Linked DNA regions of Homo sapiens. The protein of the gene in region 5 purifies or fractionates together with the protein of the main gene of each other region. This does not show direct contact. Each region holds a gene or a part of one and is shown on either strand. Other genes may lie near its edges. The genes, in order: ATP11B, CACNA2D1, TOM1L2, ABCB1, SLC26A3 and LMTK2.

Region 1 (3,500 bases), on a different chromosome or scaffold from region 5:
TAAACCCTAAGTTGTTTCTTTTGTTATTTACCACTATATTTCTATTTGATATTCTTTCTTATTCTTAAGTTTTAGACATTATCTACTATGGAATATAAAGACATAACTCTTACACTACTCTTCCCAGACACATATCCCTTTGCTTCTCCATAGCCCCCTAATACTATCATATCACAATTTGGGATTTAATAAATATTTTTATTAACATTATTATGATTGTTTTAATATTGTTCACTAATTCCCGGTTCTATAGATGTGTCCTGTAATACCATAATTACATTTCCCTTCTTATATATTTTGTTTTCCCAAGAGTTATTTGCTCTGTTTTTTCATTTCCTCAATTTCCATGTGCCACAAACAAGTCTCTGATAATATGTGCAGCATCTGTCTATATATTCAAACATACCAGGTAATCTAGAAGTTCCTTTCTTCCTCCCTGCCTTCCTTTTTTTTTTTTTTGGTAGCAATGTTTTTGGAGGCTTCCACCTTTCTGCTCCGATTGGATTATTCTTTACTCTTTCTGGGCTTGCTTCTCAGCTGTCACTCTGGACTTCACTTTACCATCACCCTGGAAATTCCTTTGCCTCTCTCCTGTTTTGGATCTCCTCTTTCTTGCATCCCATGTCTTCCTACCTGTGGCTTATTCTCTTTTGGTGCTGTACATCTTCTAATAACTTCCTGAGAAAGGATGTATCAGAGGATAATGTTTTGAAACTTGGCATGTCTGAAAATATCTTTATTCTCTTTTCACACTTGATTAATAATTTAGCTGTTATTGCATTGCAGATTGAAATCTTCAGAAATTTGAAGGGATTTTATTGTTTTCTAGCCTCCAGTGTTGCTGTTAGAGAAATCCAGTTCCATTCTGATTCCCAATTCTTTATGTATGATCTGTTGTTTTATCTCTGGAAGCTTTAGGATCTCCTTATGCAATAGTTCTGAAATTCATGATGGTGTACCTTGGTGTTCGTTTTTCCTTTTTTATTTTTTGTTTCATGGGCAATTAACTCTGTGAGTCTTTTCATCCTGGAAATACATGTCTTTCAATTCTAGGAAATTTTCTTGTACTATTGTTTTGATAACATGTCTTTCTATGTTTCTCTTGTTTTGAAACTTACTATTTGCATGTCCTACCACTTATATTGACCCTTTAATTCTCTGACTTCAATTTTCAGTTTTTATTTATTTGTTTTTATATTCTACTTTCTGGTAGAATGCCTCTGATTTATCTTTTCAGTATCTTTTGATTTATTTCTGCTATAATATTTTTAATTTCTAATATTTTGGTATTCTCTGGATAGTTTTTTAAAATTGCCTCTTATCCCATTTCTTGAACATAATCTATTCTTTTACCTCCCCGAGGATATTAATGACAGTCAATTGAAGTCTTCTTCTGCTCCCTCTATTATCTTTGCTTGTAGTGCATTTTCCAGAACAGCCAGTTCTGCTATAATGTGATATATGCGTTCCTAAAATTCACTGCATAATGCAAAATTGCCTAGTAAAAGCCACAGGGTTTATGAGAGAATGGGATTAGGGGTACAACACAAAAACAATAATACTTTTTTTTTTTTTTTTTGAGACGGAGTTTTGCTCTTGTTGCCCAGGCTGGAGTGCAATGGCGCAATCTTGGCTCACTGCAACCTCCGCCTCCTGGGTTCAAGCAATTCTTCTACCTCAGCCTCCCGAGTAGCTGGGATTACAGGCATGTGCCACCACGCCCGGCTAATTTTGTATTTTTAGTAGAAACGTGGTTTCTCCATATTGGTCAGGCTGGTCTCAAACTCCCGACCTCAGGTGATCCTCCCACCTTGGCCTCCCAAAGTGCTGGGATTACAGGTGTGAGCCACTGTGCCCAGCCTAATAATACATTTTTTAAAAGATAGGAACCTAATAAAAACAGCACTTGCCAAATTGTTCATGAATACACAAATGCTTCAATAAATACGGCACTTACCTGGACCTGAAGTTTGCCTGTGGAAGATAGGCATCAGAAGGGTTGCAACTTAAGTGTTACTGTGAAGTGTGAAAGGGAAGGTTATCTGAAATCAGAGGGAAGGTTGTAATACCAGATGTGGATGAGTGTGACTCATAACACATGGTGAACTGAGATAGCTAGTAACTGAGTTTTGGGCAAAATTTGCACAAAGTTTTGATTATGCTCAAATTGTCTCTTATTGTATCAGTTGCATTGGGATAAATTTGTGTTTTCAAGACAGTGTTACAACAGAACTGATTATAATTTGTTTCAGATTCTACCTTTTATGTAAGGAGTGATCCTCAAATGGATGCTAATCTTTGGCTATCATTTCAAATTTAAAAGTACTCTACCCAGGAGGCTGAGGTGAGAGGATGACTTGAGCCCAGGAAATCGAGGCTGCAGTGAACCCTGGTCACACCACTGCACTCCAGCCTGGGCAACAGAGTGAGACCCTGTCTCAAAAAAAAAAAAAAATGAAAGGCTGGGCTCAGTGGCTCATGCCTGTAATCCCAGCACTTTGGGAGGCCAAGGTGGGTAGATCACTTGAGCCCAGGAGTTCAAGACCAGCCTGGAGAACATGGCAAAACCCCATCTCTACAAAAAAATACAAAAACAAAAAATACAAATACTAGCTGGAATACAAAAATTAGCTGGGCGCAGTGGTGTGTGCCTGTGGTCCCAGCTACCTGGGAGGCTAAGGTAGGAGAATCACTTGAGCCCAGGAGATGGAGGTTGCAGTGAGCCCAGATTGTGCCATTGCACTCCAACCTGGGTGACAAGAGTGAAACCCTGTCTAAAAAAAAAAAACAAAAAAAACCTCAGGCACTAATATGCTTATCAGAAGCTATTGATTCAGTGGGCCACACCTTAAGGTAATGAGCTGACAGGCCCAGCAGGTAATATTTCTGCTGCTTATGGCTGCTAGAGCTGGCCATTGGATACCTGTTTTTAGTGCACTGCCTCCCTTCTGTGTTCAGCTGTCTGCGGAGACCAGATTCTGTCCAGTTCAGCCTACTAGGGGAATACACCTTCCAGCTGTTGCTCCAATAAATGAGGGGCGTTCTGAAGTTTGCAACTTTTAAAGAGATTTCAGAATTTAAACTACTCCTGATAGCTTGTATTTTCAGCCTCATCCTGTACTCCCACATTCAGGGGTAGCTGGTAGGTCTACTTCCTGAGCGTTTCTGAGAATGGGTTTTCTCATCACTTGGGTTTCAGATTCTAAGTTCTGGTACATCAGTTACCACTCATTCATCTCCTTTTCCATCTTCCAAACTTGTGTCAATCTTCCCTCTCATGCTGACTTTTTTACCATTATTTTTGTTCTTTTTCTGTTTTTTTTTTTATCCTCATGGTGAAGTTTTAAGAGAACCAGAGATAATTAAATGTGCTCAACCTGTCATGTTTAACCACAAGTTGATCCATTTATTTATTTATTTATTTATTTTTGAGACAGAGTCTCACTCTGTCTCCCAGGCTGGAGTGCAGTGGTGCAATCTCGGCTCACTGCAAGCTCCGC
Region 2 (2,417 bases), about 26 Mb from region 5:
TCATAACTGGTATTGACATTTTAGAAAACACCAAAGTGATTTAAAATATATGTGGGGAAAAAAACTTCTCACTCTAGTAACAATGTTTTAATCATGTTGTTTGTTAAATATTTAAAAGTTATTGTTCAATTTTTGCTAGACTATCTTAAATCATGATAGTGTTGGGAAGGGGGTATCAAAATATAAAATTGTTAGTTTGTGTATATAAACAATGCACATTAAAACAATTGAATTGCTTCCAGCATACAACAAACTACCTTAAAATTATGTTCAAAATCTATTAAATATATTTTCATGGCTAATGTCGAGTATATGTTTTCATCAATTACATTGTTATTGTATTAATCGCGGTTAAACTTGGCATCTCTTGGCAGGATCCTATTTAATTTCTGTTGCCATCAAAATATATTTATATGCATGAGTTTTGCTATAAACCTTTATTTTCTGCTATAAAGTTATATATTATGACAACCATAAATGCAATTACAAATTGGGTAAGAACAAGCTGAATAAAAGTTGTTCCCATGACTAATATTAGTCTTCATGCTTTTAGCATATTTTTTAAGACAGTAACACTCATCCCATCAAATTATTACATTACATTTAGTATTTTTCTGAGTTACATTGACAAGAACTTAAATTATAGCCTGTTATTAATATTGATTTCCAACGACTGAACAGTACAACAGATCAATAAAAAAGTTTATACACTGCTTTAACTAATTTTTGTTATACTCATGTGGCTTAGTGTAGTTAGTCACTAAAACAGAGTTCAAGTGAGCTTGGCAATGGTGTTGAGTAACAAGAAAGAATTTTGCATTAATGATTTCTTTTTATTTTCCTCATTTAAACAACCAGCATTACTGCCAAACACCAACCGTGGTCCATATTTGTAACAGGTTTTTAACATGACATAGTTAGCAAGTTTGATTGAAGAGATTTTTAGGTCCTGGGCCTATAAGATTTTAGTATGATCTTTTTTCATGTTTCTAATGCTTGAGGTGTTACTGCTTAACTTGGGAAAAAAAAAAACAAAAAACAGTGTTCCTGCCATTTGTAAGTTTTCCTATAATATTCCTTTTATTAACTTTAAAACTGGACTTATCGGGTTCAAATAGGCAGTATCCCTTTTAAGTGACCTTTGCAACCCAAGTGTTACTTGCTTATTTGATGCTCTCTTGTATTTTAAATCTCATTTAAATCTTTGTCTGTGACCAACAAAGCTTAAGATTTTGTCTTCATTTAAAACTCTGAATCTATTCCATTGATCATGTTAGACGTTCAAATGTTTAATGGTATAGTCTGACCTAGTGAAACAAAATGGATGTTGTTACTTTTTTTAAAGAATAGAATGAAATAACTATTTCACTTGCCCAAAATTTTAAATATTTTTTCATCTAAACTTGTATTGTTTCCCATAGCAGAATGTCAATATTCACAGTACATTTCTGTAAAGAGCAAACCAATATAATGTTTTGAGTGTTGAAAAAAATTCCAGATTTTTGAAGAATTAGACAACTCTTCATCTACCTTATTTCTAGTTCACACAGTTATCTCAAATTCCACTGAAACTAATGGGATACTGTCTTGTGTAGATGCCAGTTGAGTTTATAATGTGACCTAGTAAAGCTGTCTTTTTTGTTGTGTTGTATGAGTGTCGGATCATGCTTTTAGGAATACTTTTATTAAAATGGTGTGCATTCATGCAAAAGGCCAACTGGCTTTTGTGAACAATAGATCTTTTCTCCCCTTTATTTTGTTCTCTTGACACTTTTGTGAAAATTACCTAGCCTGATAAAAACATTTTGTAAAAATTTGTATAATACTGTTATAAAATATTTATAATCCCAGAAAATGTTGTGTTAAATCTTGTGCAAAAACAGTATATTCAGAATAAAAGTTTATCATTTAAAGTCACCACGCGGTTTGGGTTTTCTGCTTTTTAAAAGATCCAGTTGGAAGAGACAGATGGCTCTGTCATAAATAATTTTAAGAGAGAATTCTGGATTGTGGAAATAAAAGTTGGGATTAAATAGTGCTTTTACAATTACAAACCTCAACTCACACAAATACAGTCAATCCTTGAACAACATATGTTTGAACCACATGGATATACTTATATGTGGATTTTTTTCAACCAAATGCAGATTGAAAATACAGTATTTGCAAGATGGAAAACCCACATATACCAGGTGCCTACTTTCTGTATACTCAGATTCTGCGGGGCCACTTTCCAGACTTGACTTGGGTATGCATTGATTTTGATACACGTGGGCATCCTGAAACTGATCCCCCCCACGCACAGAGGGATGACTGTCAATTCACTCGCGATGCCTTTACTTAAGTCTAACCTTCTAACATGCCTTCTCCATCAAGGCACTTAGGAATGTACTTCATCAGACTTTGGACTTCTTTTA
Region 3 (3,500 bases), on a different chromosome or scaffold from region 5:
ACCTCCTCCTCTAGCAATTCTCCTGCTTCAGCCTCCCGAGTACCTGGGACTACAGGCGCACACTGCCATGCCCGGCTAATTTTTTTGTATTTTAGTAGAGACAGGGTTTCACCGTGTTGCGCAGGCTGGTCTCGAACTCCTGAGCTCAGGCAATCCACCCGCCTCGGCCTCCCAAAGTGCTAGGATTAAAGGCATGAGCCACCGCGACTGGCCCAATGTGAATATATTTAATGCCATTGAACTGCACACTTAAAACCAGTTAAAATTGTAAATTTTGGGCCTGGTGTGGTGGCTCACGCCTGTAATCTCAGCACTTTGGGAGGCTGAGGTGGGTGGAATCACAAGGTCAAGAGATCGAGACCAACCTGGCCAACATGGTGAAACCCTATCTCTACTAAAATTGCAAAAAATTTAGCTGGGCGTGGTGGCGCGTGCCTGTAGTCCCAGCTACTTGGGAGGCTGAGGCAGGAGAATCGCTTGAACCTGGGAGGCAGAGGTTGCAATGAGCCGAGGTCGTGCCACTGCACTCCAGCCTGGGCAACAGAGTGAGACTCCGTCTCAAAAAAAAAAAAAATGTAAATTTTGTTATATATATTTTATCAGGTTTTTTTTTTAAAGAATAAATAGAAACAGGTGCCCTCATGGAACATTTAGTCTAAATGATGTAAAACATAACAACACATTTTGCTTTTACATACTCACTTGACCCCTGTAAGATGTGATGGTGCAAGTGTTCTTGTACTCCCTTCACCACCACAGTTTACAGATTGGGAAACTGAGTTTTAGCACAGTTACTGGACTCATACAAAAGCAGTCGCATCGAGAAGCAAAGATGGGACTGACTCCAATCTAGAACAAAGAGTGCTAAGTGCTGGAAGAGAACAAAGAGAGAGCAATGGGAATCCACATTCCTATTGGTGGAACTATGCTATCTTTCTGGAATTCCTATTTGAAATCAGTTTAGGCTCCTTCTTGTCCAAATGGAAACAGACCATGCTTGATGTCTAAAAGGCAACATGAACAAAGAAAAACGCTGGAGCTAGAGCCCCTGGCTGGAGAGGACCGCTCCGCCTACTTGAGCCAGGAAACCTTGGGCAAGTTTCTGAACCCCTTTAAGTCTCTATTTCTTCACCTGTAAGATGAAGATAACAGTGCTTCCAGAGAAAAAAATTTTTAAATGAGATAAGTATGCACAGCACTCAGCAAGGTGCCTGGCACATGGTGAGGGGCCAGGAAATGATGGCTAGTAATGTTAGCTTTCAAAGATGCTAAATACCAGTGACAAAAAGAGTGAATAACTATGAAGAATATACTCTACCATGTGCTGTGAAGGTCACAAGGAAACAGAAAGTAGAGGAGCCTCCAGCCTTATTCAGAAGGTATGGCAATAAACACATGATAAATAACACAAGATAAATAACAACAGTAACAGTGGAGGGAAGGAATCAAGAAGTCTATATTAGTTGATTGCAGGACACCGTGCTAGGGATTTTAAGCACATTATCTCATTTAATCGTCACAAAAACCTGGAGGACAAGTAATATTTTCTGTTTTATAGATAAGAGAAGAGCCAAATGAATGATATGGATAGCAAGCACTGTGAGCTCAGAGAAGAGATTCATCACCATAAACAGGGTGGTCTAGGAAGGCTGCCTGTAGGAAGAGGTGAGGGCTGATGGGCATCAGGCTTGATGACTGAATGGAGAAAAGCAGAGAATCTCCTAAATCAAGAAGGTTGGAGGGAGCAATAACATATGTAACCAAGTCTGAGACTGGTTTTAAAAGTCGCCTCTTTTAACCTCAACAAGCCGGGTCAGCAGGAAAAGCCTGAATGTTATTTATATCTTCTCAGACTACTAGGTTAGCGCAACATTTCTGGGTGATTTATCTGCTAGGTCAAGAGCAACAACCCCTAACTGATGCTCCTCTGGGCAATGTATTTACACCGTTTTCCTTTCCTAATATCCCAAGTAAATAAATAAATAAATGTAGATTATACAGAAATATGCTAAAAGTTGTTCTACAATGTCGCCTCTTCAAGGCATGAGAAGATGAAGAGTGAAATACAAAAGTATTCCATTATGTGAAATAAGCATCTCAACAAATTTGTGAGGACGCACATTGTGGAGATTTTTTTCTCCTTTGCATTTTTTCTATATCTTTCATATTTTCTATCGGTTATACATCGTTTTGTAAAAAGCACAATGAAAGGCTGGGCACAGTGGCTGAAACCTATAATCCCAGCACTTTGGGAGGCTGAAGCGGGAGGATCACTTGAGCCCAGTAGGTTGAGGCTTTAACTACGATCCTGCCACTGCATTCCAGCCTGGGCGACAAAGCAAGACCCTGTCTCAAAAAAAATAAATAAATAAAAAGCACAATTATATGAGAATTTTAGATATTCCGATAGCCCACTCCTAAGCAGTGGCATTCCTCTAGAAAAGCCCTGGGAATAGGTCAGCCCTGTCATTGCATATGATAAACAGAGCAGGAGGAGGAGCAGGCTGACGCCCCACGTGACTTTCAATGTCAGGGGTTTTAAGACCTGTCCAGGCAATTAAGGACAAATGCTCTAGACTAGACTTCTTCTCAATGCTCCATCAACCTGCCTTGGCACCTTTCTGTTTCTGAGGGGGCTTCATAGACAGTGTCCCTACCCTTGACCACAGCTGACATCCCCCCTCCTTCCCCCACCTTCCCTCCCCAATTCTGCACAGAAGCGGGCTTTCATGGTAGAGAGAATGATCTTCTGGTGACTGCTAAGGAGAAATCTCCCTACCTCTGTAATGATATTCATGCTTCCATGCTATTCCCCTCCCTAGAAGTCTTTCATGCCTCCCCAGTACCTCTAAAATATAGTTCAAACTACTTAGCCAACATATGAAGCAAGCCCTCCACACAATCAGGCCTTATCCTCCCTTCCCAGTCTCACCCCCTATCACTCCCCTTTGCTAGGCACACAGAATAAATCCCATCACCCCCGCCTACCTCTTAACATCCAGCATTTGCTCAAGTTGTCTCTGCCAAGAAACCAAACATCCTTTTCCATTTCTACACAAACCAAATCCTCCCCATTCATCAAAGCCCTGCTCAGCAGACACCACCTCCTCAGAGTTTTCCTGAGTTCTTCCTTCCCTCCTACAGTGTTCCTCCTCACTTTACTCTTGCTGAGGGCAGCACAGCGTGACAGGATACCAGCTCTGGAGCCAGAATGCTGCATTCAGACTATAGCTCCCTCACTGCTAGCTGTGTGACCTTAGGTAGGTTCCATACTTTCTCATTGTCTTAATGTCCCCATCTGAAAATGGAGATAATCACAGTACCTTCCTCACAGCATTGTTGTGAGGATCGAATGACTGCAAGATGTATAAAGTGCCCACTTCAGTCTCTGGCACATAGGAATACAACATTAAACTTTTTTTAAAACCCCAAAAACGGGGCCGGGCATGGTGGCTCACACCTGTAATCCCAGCACTTTGGGTGGCCAAGGTGGGTGGATC
Region 4 (3,500 bases), about 20 Mb from region 5:
ACAATCTAAAAGTTCAACAAGGAAAAAATCCTATGGAAAACATTCTTGGGAGATTTGAATGTGCATTAGATATTAGCCAATATCAGAATTGTAATCACTTTTCTTAGATGTGATAATGGTAGGAGAACATGTAATTGCAATTGAAAATTTTTGTAACAAAAATGTTCATATAAACCATGAAAAAGACTCCATAGAGTGGAGGGTAGGTATTCCACTTTTTGTTTTTAACTTTGTATTTTTGAAAACTTGATAGCTTAAAGAATTATGTACTTATGATACAAACATTTAGGTAGATTTAACTAAGAAATATTGAGGGTATGTGAAGAGAAACAGTAAAGAAAATTGTATGATCTTTCACATATTTCTATTATTGGTTCTATCATGGCCTATAGACTTTTTTTTTCAAATTAGAGATTATATTTTAAAGTAGTTCTTATTAAATTGTGTTCATTGCCATTGATTTAAATCTATTTTAACATGGGATTGTAAAGAAGCATATGGCTTTGGTAATAGATAATGCTGGGATAATAGTCCTATTTGGAATATGACTATTAGCAAAGATTCTTTATTAAAATGATGTTTGATGAATGACTTGTCTTTCTAAGCACTGTTTTTTGTGCTAATGGGGATAAGTAAGTTATCTAGTAGGGGTGAGAGTTTGTGTGAAAGTGCATTTTAATGTGATGCGATGCAGTATCTCAGAAATCTGAGGTTGCACCTTATAGTTTGGTGGTCAGGGAACAGACTTGGCATTTAAATATTGGCTTAGTTATAGCTGTGAACCTTGGACAAGTTAACTCTTCTCACTCTTCTACGTCTCTAAAAGAACAAAAATGTGTCTTCCTCATAGAATTGTTTATGAATTGTGTGTGGGAAGTGCTTACTTAGCCAGTGCCTGGAACATTATAACTTCTCCAGAGTAGCAGCTGTTTTAGAGAACAAAAAAATAAATAAAAGGCTTAGAGCTAAAACTCAACTATTTATGGCTATTTTTCTCCTTTCATCCTGGTTCCAGGGATACTGAAACCATGCCTTTACTGGGAATTGGGTGGGACCAAACCTGAAGAGTTGTGTTTGTGTATTTTATGTCTGTCTAACATTACTCCAAAGCCAAATGGGTAAACTCTGGATTTTTTTCTTTAGAAGTCTCCTCACCTCTTTTGACCTCACTTAGTGTAAAGAACAAAGACAAAGATGAATTTACCTTATGAACTTAAAAACCGTGTAAAAAATAACACAAATCTTTTCTAAAATAGTTTTTCTTTTATACCTACAAAAATACAGATGAGGCAGATTTGTTACGGTTGGTTTGCTTTCACATCCTAGGTAGCAGTTACACAGAGTAGAAAATGGGCTACAGAGTTAGATTCATTTGTATCTGGGCTCAAAATAATAGTTGACCTTATGCCTGAGGAGAACTTTTTGACAATTTATAGAACATCATTTCTGACCATAGCTTTCTAGCGTGCATTTATTTCATAATGGTCCATTTAGGACTCCAGACATTTTTTTCACAATTAGATTTGCTTATAAGGAGTAATTTAATTTTCTTCTGAGGCTAGTTATGCCCAGCATCTAATTGCCACTTCTCTTCACTAGAAAGGGAAGGATTAAGAATAATATCTGGGTAGTGGATGGATAAAATGTCTACTGCCATCATTAATCAAATGACAATTAAGGGGATTCATAATTAAGGGGAAGCATGAATGATTTTCTAATTAGAATAAAAACAGGGAACTCTTTTCAGTATGTATATTTTTCTAATTGCAAAGGGTGTATGTATGTATTCATCATAGCAAATCAGGAAATATCAAAGGCACAAGGAAGAAAATATTTTTAGAGAGATTCCAGCACTCAGTGATAACCACGTATGTAGATTTCTAAGATATATGTAAACATATTTAAACATTATAAATGGGGTCATACTATTATCATCCTGTTTTTTAACTGTATAATATAGACATATTTCTTCTTCCTATTAGTCATTAAATATACATTCTATGTTAATTTGGGTAATTTAAAAAATATGTACTTTTTAAAGTTTTATGTAATTCCATTGCTGTTTTGCAGTGAAAAAGATAAGAAGGAAAAGAAACCAACTGTCAGTGTATTTTCAATGGTGAGTTTTGAATTTATTAACTATTCAAAATACTTCGGAAATTTGACATCTCCTTACATGGAAAAGAGATATTTCATCTGATGTAAGATTTTCGTATAGGGTATGTTAATGGAGATGCAAAATAAATTGGTTTGATTTAGCTTATTTTCAGGAGAATGCTGATCATAACTTGCTATCTATATTACTAATCTACAGCCACCATTCCTGACTTAGATTTCAATTCTTCTAATGAATTATGTTGCCAGTGATCCATTACCTACACAAGCACCTCTCCCATCTGCATAGAGGAAACCAATCACATAGAATGCTGTCTTTAATGGCTCTGAAATTTGGCAGGTTTTTTAGGTCAAAGTCAGTTGCTATCAATAAAAGTTAGCAATGGATTATTTATTACTATGCAAATTTTAGGTCATTTAGGTTAGTCCATTGCAAATTTTAGTTCAAAATCCATTACTAACAATAAAAGGTAGCAATGGATTATTTATTACTATGATTTCAAATATGTCATATGCCATTATTCCCCTGTGTTAAACAGATGAAAATCTAGAATTCGAAAACCTTATTGTAACTCTTTATTTCATTTTCTGGTTGCACAGTGGTTTTTTTAGAAGCTTTTCTTTAATCACACTTGGAATCAGACATGTATCATATATGTGTGGTTGGTTGATGACCTCAGTGCTGTGATCTTGGCTCACTGCAACCTCTGCCTAGTTAATGACCTCTTATTTACCTGGATTCTTACTTCCTTTTTTCTAAGAGTACAAATTTAGGTGAACTGTTAGGTGAAAGATTCCAGAGATTAGAACCTGGAAGACTACTAAACCAATTAAGTCCAACAGCACATGCTTTATAATTCAGTCATAACACAGCAATTTTTTTAAGGTAAGGGAGTGGATAGATTGTCTTGCAAAATGGATTTTAATAAATTGACTATAAAAATAGTTGTAGGTAGGGAAAAAACAGTCATGTGACTTTTACACTGAGGACTCTATGGTTCCCTTATGTGATCTTCGTTTCTCTGTGCTACCATTGCTCTTGCCATGACTCCTGCTTTTATTCTATCTCTACGCCCTTTGGAATTTTGGTGAGATGAGACTATGTACTTGAGTCATTCTTAGGCTACTTGAGTAACCAAGTGACAGTTTTCATTGTTACTTTCTTGTATGGAAAGAAGCGTTTAGGTTAAAGTTGTATTTATCCCCAGGATTTCAGTGCTGTCACTTTGAGACTTTCAGTTTTTATTATTTGTAGTTAAATTTTTTTAAACCTTAGGAGTCTTATATTTTAGAAAATTTAACAGACCTACTATATAGAGGCAATGTTATCAATAATTCATTTTAAGGCACAAAAGAATAAAAATATGGAGCTTTAATATGAGGTA
Region 5 (3,500 bases):
TAGGAGTATACCTCAGCAAACTCAAGGATCCGCAACTGAAATAATATTACACAAAACGTAAAGGCTCAACCTGTATGTACATGCCTTGAAGAAGCAAATGTCCCTGCCTCCTGGGACGCCTCCCACCCAGGGCTCCTCTCTCTCCTTCCCTTCCACCGCATCATCCAGGTGGAACGTCACATGGTATTCACATAGGATATAAGTCTAGTTTGCCCCCAAGAAGTAACAGGCTTATTTGCACTTAATTTATTTTTAAGTGTGCTGTCTTTGGAAGACTCATAGGCCTTTTCTAGTAGAATCTTACCTAGCATCAGCCCTCATAAATTTGCTGATGTAATTTTAAGTTATACTTTCTAGCTGCTGGAGCACGCATGAGCGAGTGTCTATCCTATTTCCTCAAAGTTGCTCAACTTGCTTAAGAAATACATAACTGCATATTGGACATCAGAAGTGCTTGGTTCTAGCTGGGGGAAAAGGATGGTTAATTCCCCCCTAAAGCATCATTGTTTTGCAATCGAGTGAATCGGATGGATTCTCCTTCCCTTGGATACTTGGCCTGTCTTTCTGCTCACATCTCCAGAACGCAGCCAGAGCTGTGGCTGCCCAAAGCCCAGTTGGGTTCCATTTCTATACTAAGTTCAGAAATGTATTAGAAATAACTAACCAAATTGTCAATAAGACGCATGCTTATGTCCTTGTAGAAACTGACTTTTCCTTTCTTTAAGAAATGGTCTTAACCAATAATATCATTATCCATAAACTTAGGCAACATCTCAAAAAGTCCATGACATTTTCAGTATTCAGCAGGAGTGTCAGCATACGGCTTGGAAGTGAGACTTTAGGCTCCACCATAATCCTCGTCAGTTTTCCCCAAAATTGACATGAACAGTTCAAAGCCCCCATCCCTTCCAACTAGATTATAGTTGCTGAAGAATTAAAGAAAAAAATTCCAAAGCCACCAGTATGACGATTTCTTGTATACAGTTATGTTTCTTGACTCTATCAATTCCCAGATATGCTGTTTCTTGACTCTATCAATTCCCAGATATATGTTGAAGCATTTCGCTTGTCACTGTTTGTGCCTCTCCATTCCCCTTCTTCCTTCTGTCTAGACCCACATTCATTCGTTTTTGTACTGTTGACCCACTCCTCTCCCTCTGGTTGTGGTGAGTGACCCTTCGTACAGTATTTCCTATGGGCCATGAGGGAGAGACAAACCAAAGGGAAGATGGGGAGGAGTGGCAGGGGGGAGGAAAAATAGAGAGATGTGTAACAGTCAAGATGAACAGATTGAGGTGGGCAAGTTACATGAGAAGGTGCTCACCTGGATGATTCCAGAAAGCACTGTGACTGATGCCGCCGCCGCCACCCTCACCCTCTCGTCATCCAGTAGTGAAGAATTATTCGAGTTGTTAGGCAATCCCAAAGTAGTTGCATTGCGATCTGGGACTGCTTTTGAAACTGCTCCTGAAACTGCTAGTCCCACCATCATACTCAGAATCGGAAACGGACCTAATTAACAGTGGGTGAATCGTGGTCAGTATATGCCTCTCTAAAGCACATTGTCTTTCAACCACAGAATAAGACCATATAAAATGACTGGCAAGGCTGGGCGTGGTGGCTCACGCCTGTAATCCCAGCACTTTGGGAGGCCGAGGCGGGTGGATCACCTGAGGTCGGGAGTTTGAGACCAGCCTGACCAACATGGAGAAGCCTCGTCTCTACCAACAATACAAAAATTAGTCAGGCGTGATGGTGCATGCCTGTAATCCCAGCTACTTGGGAGGCTGAGGCAGGAGAATCGCTTGAACCTGGGAGGTGGAGGTTGCAGTGAGCTGAGATCGTGCCACTGCACTCCAACCTGGGCCACAAGAGCAAAACTCCGTCTCAAAAAATAAATAAAAATAAATAAATAAATAAATAAATAAATAAAATGGCTGCCATCTGTGACCCTGCCCTCCATCTCAAACCCTGGTCCTAATTCTCACAGGAGACCATGACTCTTCTCCTGGATTATGTGAAATTTGGAATTGATAGAAGGTATGGCTAATAAAATTCATAAGGAAAAAACAATGTGAGCATTAATCAGCTCAGTAACTGACTTACCCACGGATATGTGTCTGGAAGTGCCGAAGAAAAGGTAGATTATGGCTGGGAAAAAGGATGCATACAACCCATAGACTGGGGGAATGTCGACCAGCAGAGCAAATGCTAAACCTGTAAACACACAAGCAGCAGAGCCCTTACTCTGTGCAAGAGGAATCAAAGACATTCTCATTTGGTTCTTATGGTATTTAGAATTGGATCCTAAAAATAAGTTACCTCATTAATTCAAAATGTATTAAAGATGTAAATGTAAGAACTAAAACTATAAAACTTTTAGAAGAAAGCATAGGTATAAATCTTTGTGACCTGGATTTGTCAATGGTTTCTTAGAAATGACACCTATGGCATAAGCCAGCAGTCCCCAACCTTTTTGGCACCAGAGACTGGTTTTGTGGAAGGTAATTTTTCCACTGACTAGGGAAGGGGAGATGGTTTTGGGATGACTCAAGTGTATTACATTTTTTGTGCACTTTATTTCTATTATTATTACATTGTAATATTTAATGAAATAATTATACAATTCACCATAATGTAGAATCAGTGGGAGCCCTGAGCTTGTTTTCCTGCAACTAGATGGTTCCCTCTGGGGGTGTTGGGAGACCGTGACAGATCATTAGGCATTAGATTCTCATAAGGAGCATGCAACCTAGATCCCTTGCGTGCACAGTTCACGATAGGGTTTGCACTCCTATGAGAATATAATGTTGTCGCTGATCTAACAGGAGGTGGAGCTCAGGAGGTAAAGAGAGCAATAAGGAGCGGCTGTAAATACAGGTGAGGCTTCATTTGCTCACCTGCCACTCACCTCCTGCTGTGTGGCCCAGTTCTTAACAGGCCACGGACCTGTACTGGTCTGTGGCCCAGGGACTGGGGACCCCTGGCATAAGCACCCAATGAAAAATACAGATAGACTGGACTTAATCACAATTTAAAAACGTGTACTTCAAAGGATACTATCAAGAAAGTTAACCAATAATTCACAGAATAAAAAAGTTATCTGCAAATTGTATATCTGACAAGGGTCTGGTATCCAGAATATAGAAACAACACTTGCAACTCCACAACAAAAAGACAAATAACCCAATTTAAAAATGGATAAAAACTTTGAATAGACATGTTTCAAAAGATATACAAATGGCCAATAAACACCTGGAAAAAATATTCAATATTGTTAGTCATTAGAGAAATGCAAATGCAAACCACAATGAGATACCACTTCACACTCACTGGGATAGCTAAAAGAAAAAAGATGGACAATAACAAGTGTTGATGATATGGAGAAATCTGAACCCTCATACACTGCTAGTGGAAATGTAAAATGGTGTAGCTACTTTAGAAAATAAGTTAGCAGTTCCACAAATGATTAAATATAGAGTTACCCTATGATCCAGCAA
Region 6 (3,500 bases), 9.6 Mb from region 5:
GAGCAGCCCCTACCCGAGCCAGTCCTCCCCGAGCAAAGTCCTGCTGCCCAGGATAGCTGCCTGGAAGCCAGAAAGAGCCAGCCAGATGAAAGTTGTCTGTCTGCTTTGCACAACTCCAGTGACCTGGAATTAAGAGCCACGCCGGAGCCAGCACAGACTGGTGTTCCCCAGCAGGTGCATCCCACGGAAGACGAGGCCAGCAGTCCCTGGAGTGTGCTGAATGCAGAACTTAGCAGCGGCGATGACTTCGAGACACAGGACGATCGCCCCTGCACCCTCGCTTCCACGGGGACCAACACGAACGAACTCCTTGCCTACACCAATTCTGCGCTGGACAAGTCCCTGTCCAGCCACTCCGAGGGCCCGAAGTTGAAGGAGCCGGACATCGAAGGGAAGTACCTGGGGAAACTCGGGGTGTCAGGGATGCTCGACCTCTCAGAGGACGGGATGGATGCAGACGAGGAGGACGAAAACAGCGACGACTCGGACGAGGACCTGCGGGCCTTCAACCTGCATAGCCTCAGCTCCGAGTCGGAGGACGAGACCGAGCACCCCGTGCCCATCATCCTCAGCAACGAGGACGGAAGGCACCTGCGGAGTCTGTTGAAGCCCACAGCGGCCAATGCCCCCGACCCACTGCCCGAGGACTGGAAGAAGGAAAAGAAGGCAGTCACGTTTTTCGATGATGTCACAGTCTACCTGTTTGACCAGGTATCTGTTCCCTCTAAATCATTTTCTATACACATCCATATAAGGATTCCAAAATGTGCTAGGAAATTGAGTGTGGTCTGTTTTCTAGTTGCCATTTTGAGGCAGCAGATTGTGATTACTCACAAAAAGTAATTTGGGGTTGGTTAGAGTTCTAAGAATATGCAGAAATGTCATTTGCTCAGGGAGTTCGTATTAAATTAAGAGAAAGAGACCCGAATGCTCTTCCTGGGTCTTCTAATGGAGTCTTCCTGAATTAGTCACCCTTTACACACCAAATTTTTACTGTTTTACTTTTTTATTTTTCTTTTGAGACAGCCTTGCTCTGTGGCCCAGGCTGGAATGCAGTGGTACAGTTGCAGCTCACTGCAGCCTTGAACTCCTGGGCTCAAGTGATCCTCCCACCTTCCATAATAGCTGGGCCCACAGGTTCATGCCACCATGGCTGGCTAAGGTTTTGGTGTTTTTTTTGTTTTGTTTTGTTTTTAATTTTTGTAGACACACGGTCTTGCTATGTTGCCTAGGCTGCTCTCAAACTCCTGGGCTCAAGCCATCCTCCCACCTCAGCCTCTCAAAGTTTTGGGATTACAGGCATGAGCCACTGCGCTTGGCCTCCAATTTTTAGAGCCTGACAATTGGCAGTAGGACCCACCACTTGGGTACAAGCCTGGAACCATGGCTGGCGTGCAGCCCTGGAGACAGCTCAGGAGAGGGGCCAACCAGAAGCCCTGCGGTGGGTGTCTGGAGGGTGTGACACACAGCAGGAGCGTCTGTGGTCCTTCTGCTCTGTCCCCTGACCTGTCCTCTTTCCCTGCTTTGGAGCAGGCAGCTTAGTGTGCACTGCTGAGTGGGCATGGATTTAGGCTCCTTTAAAAATGTAACAGCGGATAATTCAAGCATGCTTTAAAAAAAAAAAAAAAGTTCTTTTCATACTAGTCTTTGTAGCCCTTGAATTTGCTGCTTGCATCAGCTGGATTGTTGGGAGAGCTCAGTGGTGGGACATGAAAATGGGGTCCCCTCACCTTCTAGAAGGCGCAGGAGTCCTCGCCGTCTCCTTCACATTGCTTGCCCTCCCTTTTGCTCCATTCTGGGAACCCAGACCTTGGTCTCAGCCCCTGCGTGGCACCATCCCTCATGGGTCCGTGGCTATGGCGGGTCCAAGCACTGTTCCACCTCCTCCCCCAGGAGCTGCGTCTGTTGAACGTCACTTTATGCCTTGTTCCTCTGTGTTCTGTTCACTTTGGTTTTTATGATGTTTCTTTAAAAATCGTTAAATCACCCGCATTTGAGCTATAGCATATATGGCGGGGAAGTGGATGTTTAAAAAATGAAAAGTAAGGCCAGGCGCGGTGGCTTATGCCTGTAATCCCAGCACTTTGGGAGGCCAAGGTGGGCGGATCACCTGACGTCGGGAATTCAAGACCAGCCTGGGCAACATGGCGAAACCCCATCTCTACTAAAAATATAAAAATTAGCCAGTCACGGTAGGCAAGACTGCAGGCCCAGCTACTTGGGAGGCTGAGGCATGAGAATTGCTTGAACCTGGGAGGCAGAGGTTGCAGTGAGCCAAGATTGCACCACTGCACTCCAGCCTGGGTGACAGAGTGAGACCTGTCTCAGAAAAAAAAAAAAAAAAGCAGCCTCCTGAGCTCAGCCTGACCTCTTGAACCTGATTCTGCGAGGGGCCAGGAGGCCGTCTTTCTCTTTTCATTCCCCAGGTGGTTCCTAGGCAGATCTCGAACTCAGGAGCCTCTGAGCTCAGGGAGCCTGAGAAAACACGCTGCCGTTTTCTAGTAAGAGTGGAAGGGAGAAGGGATCACCTGGCCCCTCGGGTTTGTGTTTTGTTTTCAATGCATCCACATAGCCCTTTCTCCACCGTCTCTGTGAACTTGGATTATCGCTGCATTTCTCCATGGATGGGGTAATGTATAGGTGGGACGGAACTGTCAACTGTGCTCGGTGAGCAGTGCGGTTAGGAGCTAGGGAGCACGCTGTCCCCACTTCCTGAAAGCCTGGGGGTAGCTGGAGTAGTGAGAGGGACGCAGTCCCAGTGGAAGCAGCCTGTGGAGAAAACTCCCTGGGGCCGCAGAGTATGGGCCCCTTGCACAAGTCTTTGTGGAGGATGTTATGTTTTTCTGACTTTAGAAGACAGAATTGCAAAAGATGAAGATCTGTGACAAGGGCACTCTAGTTATGGGATGGAAGGTACAGAGATCAAATACCAGACATGCTTAATGGACGCGAGGCTTTGACAAGGAAGTTAGTGTCAAGGAGAAAGTCGGAAGGTGGGTCAGGGCCAGAAGAAAATGAGGAAGATCTTTCTGATGATCTGAAATTCGTTTGCTTATGCGTCTCATGCAGCATGCCTTGAAGCGACAGCCACCAAGCGTTCAGGCCGAGGACTGAGGGTTTCCTCCCACTCCTGCTTTCTTTTTTAATGAGCTGGTTTTGAAGTTGTGTAGTTTTTAAGCAGTTGAAGTATCTTGGCTCCAAACTTTTAACTGAGTGTTCATGGGATTGGGCAGCAATTGTTTCTTGGTTATATTACTATTTGTCAGTTCAGCAAATACTTAACCAGCACTTACCGTGTAAAGTAGTAAAGGCTGGTGAACAGTCTGTGGGTGCCAGCACCTTTATTATACATTGAGTCTTGTTTTGCTTCCCCATGTGGGGGTGGTTGTCACCATCTTCATGGAGAGGACCCTGAGGCTCAGAGTAGGTAAACTTTGCACAGGGTCTGGCCCCAGTGAGTAGCAGTGCTAGGGCTTGACCCAAGTCTCCTGGACCGAGCA

Evidence for each region.
Region 1: the proteins of SLC26A3 (region 5) and ATP11B purify together in Homo sapiens (affinity purification with mass spectrometry; one large-scale study listed by BioGRID and IntAct). This does not show direct contact.
Region 2: the proteins of SLC26A3 (region 5) and CACNA2D1 purify together in Homo sapiens (affinity purification with mass spectrometry; one large-scale study listed by BioGRID and IntAct). This does not show direct contact.
Region 3: the proteins of SLC26A3 (region 5) and TOM1L2 purify together in Homo sapiens (affinity purification with mass spectrometry; one large-scale study listed by BioGRID and IntAct). This does not show direct contact.
Region 4: the proteins of SLC26A3 (region 5) and ABCB1 purify together in Homo sapiens (affinity purification with mass spectrometry; one large-scale study listed by BioGRID and IntAct). This does not show direct contact.
Region 6: the proteins of SLC26A3 (region 5) and LMTK2 purify together in Homo sapiens (affinity purification with mass spectrometry; one large-scale study listed by BioGRID and IntAct). This does not show direct contact.

The regions. Positions count from the first base shown.
Region 1 is NC_000003.12:182,859,504-182,863,003, forward strand, and holds part of ATP11B (phospholipid-transporting ATPase IF), read left to right. Parts: intron 1-3,500. UniProt on the Homo sapiens protein: Catalytic component of a P4-ATPase flippase complex which catalyzes the hydrolysis of ATP coupled to the transport of aminophospholipids, phosphatidylserines (PS) and phosphatidylethanolamines (PE), from the outer to the inner leaflet of intracellular membranes.
Region 2 is NC_000007.14:81,945,944-81,948,360, reverse strand, and holds the end of CACNA2D1 (voltage-dependent calcium channel subunit alpha-2/delta-1 isoform 1 preproprotein), read left to right. Parts: 3' UTR 1-1,917; downstream 1,918-2,417. UniProt on the Homo sapiens protein: The alpha-2/delta subunit of voltage-dependent calcium channels regulates calcium current density and activation/inactivation kinetics of the calcium channel. Plays an important role in excitation-contraction coupling.
Region 3 is NC_000017.11:17,962,401-17,965,900, forward strand, and holds part of TOM1L2 (TOM1-like protein 2), read right to left. Parts: intron 1-3,500. UniProt on the Homo sapiens protein: Acts as a MYO6/Myosin VI adapter protein that targets myosin VI to endocytic structures. May also play a role in recruiting clathrin to endosomes. May regulate growth factor-induced mitogenic signaling.
Region 4 is NC_000007.14:87,594,385-87,597,884, reverse strand, and holds part of ABCB1 (ATP-dependent translocase ABCB1), read left to right. Parts: intron 1-2,070; coding exon 2,071-2,119; intron 2,120-3,500. UniProt on the Homo sapiens protein: Translocates drugs and phospholipids across the membrane. Catalyzes the flop of phospholipids from the cytoplasmic to the exoplasmic leaflet of the apical membrane.
Region 5 is NC_000007.14:107,789,724-107,793,223, forward strand, and holds part of SLC26A3 (chloride anion exchanger), read right to left. Parts: intron 2,218-3,500; coding exon 2,107-2,217; intron 1,513-2,106; coding exon 1,325-1,512; intron 1-1,324. UniProt on the Homo sapiens protein: Mediates chloride-bicarbonate exchange with a chloride bicarbonate stoichiometry of 2:1 in the intestinal epithelia. Plays a role in the chloride and bicarbonate homeostasis during sperm epididymal maturation and capacitation.
Region 6 is NC_000007.14:98,193,862-98,197,361, forward strand, and holds part of LMTK2 (serine/threonine-protein kinase LMTK2 precursor), read left to right. Parts: coding exon 1-711; intron 712-3,500. UniProt on the Homo sapiens protein: Phosphorylates PPP1C, phosphorylase b and CFTR.